2 separate regions of the Homo sapiens genome follow, and region 1 is linked to region 2. Evidence: fine-mapped expression QTL. A gene starts in region 2. The other region holds a variant in brackets. All regions are shown on one strand. Distances are between the middles of the regions.

What was found. PIP is the estimated chance that this variant, and not a neighbour inherited with it, causes the effect.
Region 1: its variant is fine-mapped to the expression of GZMM in whole blood (INTERVAL, PIP 0.97).

The regions. Positions count from the first base shown.
Region 1 is chr19:569,987-574,366 of GRCh38, forward strand. BSG (basigin (Ok blood group)) reads left to right here and starts at 2,610. Exons shown (of 9, transcript NM_001728.4): 1 at 2,610-2,715. The coding sequence starts at 2,649. BSG-AS1 (BSG antisense RNA 1) reads right to left here and starts at 2,262. Exons shown (of 3, transcript NR_184018.1): 1 at 2,123-2,262; 2 at 1,454-1,610. RefSeq lists enhancers at 858-1,430, 1,511-1,560 and silencers at 2,381-2,600, 2,771-2,950. The variant G/C (reference allele first, on the strand shown) is at 2,331.
Region 2 is chr19:541,902-546,281 of GRCh38, forward strand. It overlaps GZMM (granzyme M), which reads left to right and starts at 2,152. Exons shown (of 5, transcript NM_005317.4): 1 at 2,152-2,225. The coding sequence starts at 2,171. CDC34 (cell division cycle 34, ubiquitin conjugating enzyme) reads left to right here. Exons shown (of 5, transcript NM_004359.2): 5 at 1-186. RefSeq lists an enhancer at 1,520-2,165.

The DNA of each region.
Region 1 (4,380 bases), 28 kb after region 2:
AACAGTGGTTTGAGTTCTTTTAGATTTCTAACCTCTGAACTGGTTAAAGGGGGCATTTACGAAGTCAATATCCCTTCCTCCCGGTGGTCCTTCCCTAAAGGGGAAAAGGGCTGAGGCAGGTCTTTTTGAGCAGGAGGCAAAAGGAAAGTTCTGTGGGTTTTTGTTTGTTTGTTTGTTTTTTGAGACGGAGTCTCGCTCTTGTTGCCGAGGCTGGAGTGCGGTGGCGCGATCTCGGCTCACTGCAAGCTCCACCTCCCGGGTTCAAGACATTCCCTGCCTCAGCCTCCCGAGTAGCTGAGTAGCTGGAATTACAGGCGCCCGCCACCACGTCCGGCTAATTTTCGTATTTTTAGTAGAGGCGAGGTTTCATCATCGTGGCCAGGCTGCCAGTCCTGAACTCCTGGCCTCGTGATCCACCCGCCTCTGCCTCCCAAAGTGCTGGAATTACAGGCGTGAGCCACCGCGCCCGGCCGAAAGTTTCGAATATCCCTTTGGCATTGTTCTGTTTCCCGTTGGAGCTTTCCTGAGGAAGGGGCATGTTCTAGTGGCTGTCCAGCGGGGATGTGGGTGGCAAGGTCCAGGTGGTTCTATAGGGGAGGGATGGAGGGGCGGAGGAGCGGGTGGGGGAGGGGCGGAGGGGCGAGGGGTGGGTGGGAGGGGCGGAGGGGCGGGTTGGGGAGGGGCGGAGGGGTGGGGTGGGTGGGTGGGGGGGGCGGAGGGGTGGGTTGGGAGGGGCGGAGGGGGTGGGTTGGGAGGGGCGGAGGGGGTGGGTTGGGAGGGGCGGAGGGGGTGGGTTGGGAGGGGCGGAGGGGGTGGGTTGGGAGGGGCGGAGGGGTGAGTGGGGGAAGGTGGTCTAGAGGATCCCACCCTTCTTTAGATATGGGGCGTCTCTGCTAAAAATACAAAAATTAGCCGGGCGTGGTGGTGCGCGCCTGTAATCCCAGCTACTCAGGAGGCTGAGGCAGGAGAATCGCTTGAACCCGGGAGGCGGAGGTTGCAGAGAGTCGAGATCGCGCCGCTGCACTCCAGCCTGGGTGACACAGCGAGACTCCAACACACACACACACAAAAGATATGGCGCGTCTCATTCATTCACAAGTTCCTCTTCAAAGGTTTGGCTCGTTCAGCGCCCTCGTTCTTCGTTTCCTACTTCCAAGGCCAACCTGACTTCCTCACCCTCTGGGCCTCCCCGTCTGAGTCTCAGTAAACAAGTTTCCCGCCGGTCCTGATCTGCAGAGATGGCACCTGCCACCCACTCTGCACATCCCCCTCCCGTCGCCACGGGCTCTTCCCGCCAGTGTAGCCACATTCCTGCCCCTTTCCAGTTAGCCCTTCGCGTTCGGCTTAGTCTGCGGTCCTCTTGCATTGCGACTCCGAGTTTAACTTCCAACACACACTTTCAACCTCCAAGAGACGCCCCCACCTGTGTCGCCCCAATAGCGACTTTTCTCACCGTGGTCGCCGCGGAACTTCAAGGGTCCTTCCTACCCGCGTTGCTGAGAGTCTGGGTTTACGCGTCACCTCGGGCGGGACCCGATCCTCCGCTCCTGAGGCCCCCACAATGAAGCAGTCGGACGCGTCTCCCCAAGAAAGGTAACCGCCAGCCTCTCCTGAAACAGAATGGGATCCAAATGGGATATTTGGGGGCGGCGAGTCGGTCCCGCAAAGAGAAACCAGCACTTAGAAAATTTCTCAGCGAGACCACTTTACTTGTACGGAAGGGGGCTGCCTGCGTGGGATGCAATCTCCAGAGCACACGGGACAAAGGAAGGGAGCTTCTGTTCCTCTGTCCTTTCCCTGTTGGCTGGGGTTGGACGCCCACAATCTAAGCTGATCCCGGTTGGCTAAAACTTAAAACTTTTTTAAAATAGGGTAAACGCGCCACCTGCGAGGAAAGAAGAAGGGGGTAAGGTTGATTGACAACTTTAGACCTGGAAGTTGAGTTTCTGAAGAGGAACTTACTTGTCCCAACCAAATGGTGCACAGGACGTTTATACTAAGAAATTATTCATTTTCTGAGATCCAGATTCAAGTGCCCTTTAAGTATTTTTATTTGGGCGGAGGAGGTCACTTCCTCCCACCTAATTTATTAATACGTTCATATATATATATATATATGTACATTTTTAAAGGCAGAGATGTGCGTCTCGCCATGTTGCCGCGTCTGGTCTCGAGCTCCCGGGCTCAAGCGATCTTCCCGCCTCGACCTCCCAAGGCTCTGGGAGTACAGACGTGAGCCACAGCGGCCGGCCCGTGTTTAACTCAGATAAAATCTGGGTAACACACTTTCAACGCTTCAACCCCCTCGGGCGCACCGCTCTGCGCTCATT[G/C]CAACTTTGAAAGCAGGAAGGAAGAAATGCGCAGGCTCCAGCCGCGTCCCCGCAGGCCCCACTCCCGTTTCCTAGCAACGCCGGGTCACGTGCGCCGCCGCCCGGATTCCGTAGCGTGAGCCTGCCGGAGCCGGCGCGTACATGCGAGCGTGTGCGCGCGTGCGCAGGCGGGGCGACCGGCGTCCCCGGCGCTCGCCCCGCCCCCGAGATGACGCCGTGCGTGCGCGCGCCCGGTCCGCGCCTCCGCCGCTTTTTATAGCGGCCGCGGGCGGCGGCGGCAGCGGTTGGAGGTTGTAGGACCGGCGAGGAATAGGAATCATGGCGGCTGCGCTGTTCGTGCTGCTGGGATTCGCGCTGCTGGGCACCCACGGAGCCTCCGGGGCTGGTGAGGAGCGGGTAGGGGGCGGGGGTGCGGTCCTGCAGGGGCCGGGAATGGAGGCCGCGGTGCCGACCCGAAGCCGACGGGAGCCTGGGGCCTCGGCGCGGGGCGGCCTGGGGTGCGAAAGGCCGGCCCCGGGGGCTTCCCGCGCCAGCATGGAGCTTGGGGGTGAAGTCCCAGGGTTTGAGGGGGGACTAGAGGTTCCTCCCGGCGCGGCCTGCCGGGCTCCCCCGGGCGCTCCGGCCTCGAGCCCGGCCTCTGTGTGTGGGCGTGAAGCTCCCTGCTTGGAGGCGGGAGCCAGGGGGTCCTGGCCAGGCCGGTCTTGGTCAGGGGAGGTGGGCGTCTTGCTTTTCGGTCACCTGGGGTTGGGGGTGACCTGCTTCCTGGGTGAGGGCGTCTGCGAAGGCGGTTGGAGGTGGCCCGCCCGCCGGTCCCATCGGCCAGGAGAAGGGAGACCCAAAGCCTGGGTGAGCGTCCCCTTTGGCCTGGAGCCAGGGGTCAGGGGCTGGTTGGTGCCTGCCCAACCCGTCCTGCTGGGGCTGGACTCCGCAGGACCTGGGGAAAGCGGCCTGGGCGTGGAATCTGGAGACGGGTCCACCCTGCCTGCGAGTGTTAGGGTCAGAGACCCTCCCCTGAGACTCTCTGGGGCCCCCGCAAGGGCCCGTGCGGCCTGGAGCGATCATCTTGGCGCTCCCTTCTGGAAAAGGGGCTTTTGTCCTCCAAGAGCACATGGAGGCTCTGAGTGGGTCAGCCCTCCGGATCGGGAAGGGATTACCGTTCTTCACGGGATTTAGCCCTGGCGTCTTGCCTAGGGCGTGCACCTGCCCCCGGGTGTTCTCCCAGACTCTTAAGACCTCGCAGGCTCCCTCGAGGGGCCCTGCGTGGAAGGGAAGGCGGAATCTCCCTCTGATTCTGCCTGGATTCAGCACCCAGAATGAGGTGGTCTCTGAACGCCCCTCCTCCTTTACAGGCGAGGAAACAGCCCTGTGGGAAGTCGAGGTTCCAAGGTCACAGTGAGGGGGCCCTGGCCACCCGATTCAGCGCAGGAAATAGTGAGAAAGTCGTTTTTAGCCGACTCTGACCCGCATTCGGTTTCCAGTGCTGTCTTAGGAGGGCCGTGTGTTGAGGGTGGGCAAACGTGGTTTGGAGAGCGCATTTGGGAAATGGATTGAGGTGTGTTTTTCCGGGAGAAAAGCATGACATCCTTTCTTGCTTCATAGAAAATTTCTTCCTTTGTTGAGACCCCCATTTGGTTCTGGGTTAAAGATTTATAGTGAGGCCGGGCGTGGTGGCTCACACCTGTAATCCCAGCACTTTGGGAGGCTGAGGCGGGTGGATCACCTGAGGTCAGGAGTTCAAGACCAGCCTGGCCAACATGGTGAAACCCCATCTCTACTAAAAATACAAAAATTAGCTGGGCGTGTTGGCGCACGCCTGTAATCCCAGCCACTCAGGAAGCTGAGGCAAGAGAATCGCTTGAACCTGGGAGGTGAAGGTTGCAGTGAGCTGATATCATGCCACTGCACTCCAGCCTGGGTAACAGGGAGACTCTGTCTTTAAAAAAAAAAAAAAAAGAGGTCGGGCATGGTGGCTCACGCCTGTAATCCCAGCACTTTGGGAGGCCGAGGCGGGCGGATCACGAGGTCAAGAGATCAAGACCATCGTGGCTAA
Region 2 (4,380 bases):
GGCGGGGGGCCGTTTCCTGACACTACCAGCCTGGGAGGCCCAGGTGTAGCGGTCCGAGGGGCCCGGTCCTGCCTGTCAGCTCCAGGTCCTGGAGCCACGTCCAGCACAGAGTGGACGGATTCACCGTGGCCGACTCTTTTCCCTGCTTTGGTTTGTTTGAAATCTAAATAAAACTACTTTATGAGAGGCCAGAGAAGCTGTGCTTGGGAGGGAGAGGCAGCCTCCACGTCCATGAGTGACTGCACACGGCCAGTCCCACTGGGACCCTGGCTACGCCAGGTGTGGATCTGGGAGGCCTGTCCTGGGAGGCACGGGGAGCAGCCGGGTCCCGCGGCCTGTACGTTCCCATGACTTGGGTCAGACAGGCCTGGGCAGCATCCCCCAGCCTGCGGGACAGGGGCGGCCAGAAAGCCCCCAGAGTTCCTCCTCCCTGTGACCAGGTGCATCTAGTGGGACGGGAGCTGCCTCTGCAGGCATCCAGCAAAGCTTCGTCGCGGGTCCACAGCCGCCTGGGCGTTGATCTCAGCGTCTCAGGGCTCCCAGGACCACAGATGCCCCCGATCAGCACTCCGGCGGCTCCAGCTCCGTCCAGGCACACCCTCGGGGTGGGGAGCCGTGGCCCTGGGCACACAGGGCAGGCACCTCACGTCCTGGTGTCAGGAAGTCCCCAGCATCGTTTTATTACATGTCATGGAGGAAAGCTCGGAGCTCCCATGCCCTCCCGGGGCACCGCCTTCCAGGAACCTGCCTGCGTTCCGCTTCTGGGCACCCGGAAAGTCGCTCAGTGGCTGATTCAGGGTCGAGGAGCTGTGAGGATGAGGTTTCCCACCAAGTTGGGACAGAAAATGGGGCCCTGGGGTCTCAGCAAACCATGGCCCTCGGGACCAAACCTGGCGTCCGCCCCTATTGTGAGTGAAGTGTTACTGGCACAGCCACACCCAGGTCTCAGGATCATCCATAGCTGCTTGGTTTGGTTTGGTTTTGTTTTTGAGACACAGTCTTGTGTTGCCCAGGCTGGAGTGCAGTGGTGCGATCTCGCCTCCTGGGTTCAAGTGATTCTCCTGCCTCAGCCTCCTGAGTAGCTGGGACTACAGGCTCCCACCACCATGCCCAGCTGATTTTTGTATTTTTAGTAGAGATGGGGTTTCACCATGTTGGCCAGGATGGTCTCGAACTCCCAACCTCAGGTGATCGCCCGCCTCGGCCTCCCAAAGTGCTGGGATTACAGGCGTGAGCCGCCGCGCCCGGCCTAAATTTATTTATTTTTGAGACAGGGTCTTGCTCTGTCACCCAGGCTGAAGAGCAGTGGTGCAATTACGGCTCACTGCAGCCCCAACCTGGGCTCAAGCGATCCTCCTGCCCCAGTCTCTCAAAGTGCTGGGATTACAGGTGTGAGCCACCGCCTTCGGCCAGTGTCTTTATTCATGAAGACCAAAAACTAGAACAGCGCAAATATCCGTCCGCTGGTGAATGCATAAACACAGCGTGGTCCAGCCACACAATGGGATGTGACACAGCCACAAAAAGGAGCGAGGCTCTGACACAGGCCACAGCCTGGATGCACCTTGAGGACGTCATGCTGGGAGAGACGCCAACGCAACAGGTCCTGTGTGATTCCACTCCTGGGAGGTCCCTAGAGACCAATTCAGAGGCAGGAAGTAGTGGCCGGGCGCGGTGGCTCATGCCTGTAATCCCAGCACTGGGAGGCCGAGGTGGGTGGATCACCTGAGGTCGGGAGTTTGAGACCAGCCTGGTCAACATGGTGAAACCTCGTCTCTACTAAGAATACGAAAATTAGCCGGGCGTGGTGGTGGGCACCTGTAGTCCCACTACTCGGGAGGCTGAGGCCGGAGTATGGCGTGAACCCGGGAGGCGGAGCTTGCAGTGAGCCGAGATCGCACCACCGCACTCCAGCCTGGGCGACAGAGCGAGACTCCATCTCTGAAAAAAAAAAAAAAAAAAAAGTGTTACTTTGTCAGGTGTGATGATGGTAGTGTGGCTTCATCTCGAGTCCTCTTTGAGAAACACTTTCTAAAATGCTCAAGGATGGAGGGTGGAGGGTGTGCAGCGGTGGGCGGGGCTGTGACCGTCACCTCACCTCCCCCACAGGAAGCGCGTGTGGGGAGGCTCGGGGCCGGGGCCAGCACCCACACTGGGTCTCCACAGCGGCATGGAGGCCTGCGTGTCTTCACTGCTGGTGCTGGCCCTGGGGGCCCTGTCAGTAGGTGAGTGGGAGCCGGGATGCAGGGGGGACACTGAGGCCCAGCGCTCTCGGTGGGTCCCTGGATGGGAGGGGTGGGCGCGGGCGCCGACATCCTGGGTGTAAGAGCGGAGATTCATCCTTGTTTGGAGGGGGACTGAGGCCTGGGGCATCCCGAGCTCCTCACGCTTCACCCCGAGTGGACATCCCGGGACCGTGGGAGAGTGTGGTGTCCACCGGCTCACCTCGCCCATCCTCCCGGCAGCAGCCAGAAGGCAGGGGTCACGCTCACACCCGAGGTGCAGAGTAGGAGACTGAGACTTGGCGAAGGAGATGCTGACCTAGGACTGCCCAGCTGGGAGGGCAGAGCTGGGACTCGATCCCCGCTGGCTGCCTGCCACCACCAAGGGCTTGGCTGGGACTAGGTGCCCAGCAGTGAGGGAGAAGGGAGGTGGGTGGCGGCTCCCCTGCATTCCAGCTGGACTGAGTGACAGGGGCTCTTGATGAGTTGGGGACCCAAGAAGATGGACAGAGGTAGGAATCCAGCCGTCAGTCATCATCATCCTTCCTCCCATTTTTATTTCCTTCCACCCATGGGTCCATCATCCCTCCCTCCCTCCCTCCCTCCCTCCCTCATCTCCCCTTCCTTCCCTCTACCCGTCCGTCCACCCATCATTCCTCCTTCCATTCTTCCACCCACCCATCCATCATCCATCCCTCTACCCATGGGTCCATCATCCATCCCTCCCTCCCTCCTTTCGTTCCCCCTTCCTTCCCTCCGCCAGTCCATCCACCCATCATTCCTCCTTCCTCCCATTCTTCCACCCACCCGTCCATCCATCATCCATCCCTCCTTTCAACCTCCCTCCTTCCCTCCACCCGTCATCCTTCCCTCCCTCCTTCCATGTATCCACCCATCCATCCATCATGCCTCTCTCTTCCTTTCCCCCCTCCTTCCCTCCTCCCTCCCATCCATCCATCATCCATTCCTCCTTCCATCCCTCCTTCCTTTCTCCCGTGCTTCTGTGTATCCATCCGTATTTGCAGGGCTCGTGCTGTTCTAGGCCTGCCCTCCTGTCTGACTGGAAGAGACAGGCCAGGCATGAGACTGTGCAGAGCGGAGGAAACACGGAGGGCAAGAGGGCGGGTGGGGGGCCGTTGCAGGAGACGAGCATAAACCAAGGGAGGAAGCCGGTGGGGGAAAGGTACGCAGGCAGCTAAGTGAGACAGACAAAGGCCCAGGGTGCAGGCAGCTTGCAGGCACAGCTAGACTTGCACTCTTGTCACCCAGGCTGGAGTGCGATGGTGCCATCTCGGCTCACTGCAGCCTCCGCCTCCTGGTTTCAAGCGATTCTCCTGCCTCAGCCTCCCGAGTAGCTGGGATTACAGGCGCCTGCCACCATGCCGGGCTAATTTTGTATTTTTAGTAGAGACAGGGTTTCCCCGTGTTGGTCAGGCTGGTCTCAAACTCCCAACCTCAGGTGATCCGCCTGCCTCGGCCTCCCAAAGCGCTGGGATTACAGGCGTGAGCCACCGCGCCCGGCCTATTTTTTTTTTTTAAGATGGAGTTCTGCTATTCTTGCCCAGGCTGGAGTGCAATGGCACGATCTCGGCTCACCACAACCTCTGCCTCCCGGGTTCAAGCGATTCTCCTGTCTCAGCCTCCCAAGTAGCTGAGATTACAGATGCCCGCCACCTCGCCCGGCTAATTTTTTGTATTTTTAGTAGAGACGGGGTTTCACCGTGTTAGCCAGGATGGTCTCGATCTCCTGACCTCGTGATCCACCTGCCTCGGCCTCCCAAAGTGCTGGGATTACAGGCGTGAGCCACCGCACCCGGCCTTAATTTCTGTATTTTTAGTACAGACGGGGTTTTACCACATTGGCCAGGCTGATCTCCAACTCCTGACCTCAGGCTGTCTGCCCACCTTGACCTCCCAAAGTGCTGGGATTATAGGCGTGAGCCACTGCACCGGCCCGCAAGCGGGGACTTGATTTTCAAAGCATGATGGGGATTCAGAGAAGATTTTGAGCTGATTTACGTTACATTATGAAATCAATCCTTTTATATTTATGATTGATTTAAAATAATTTTTGTACAGCTTTATTAGGAAATTATGCACTATACAATTTACTTATTTAAAGACTACATTTCTTGCTGGGCACAGTGGCTCACGCCTG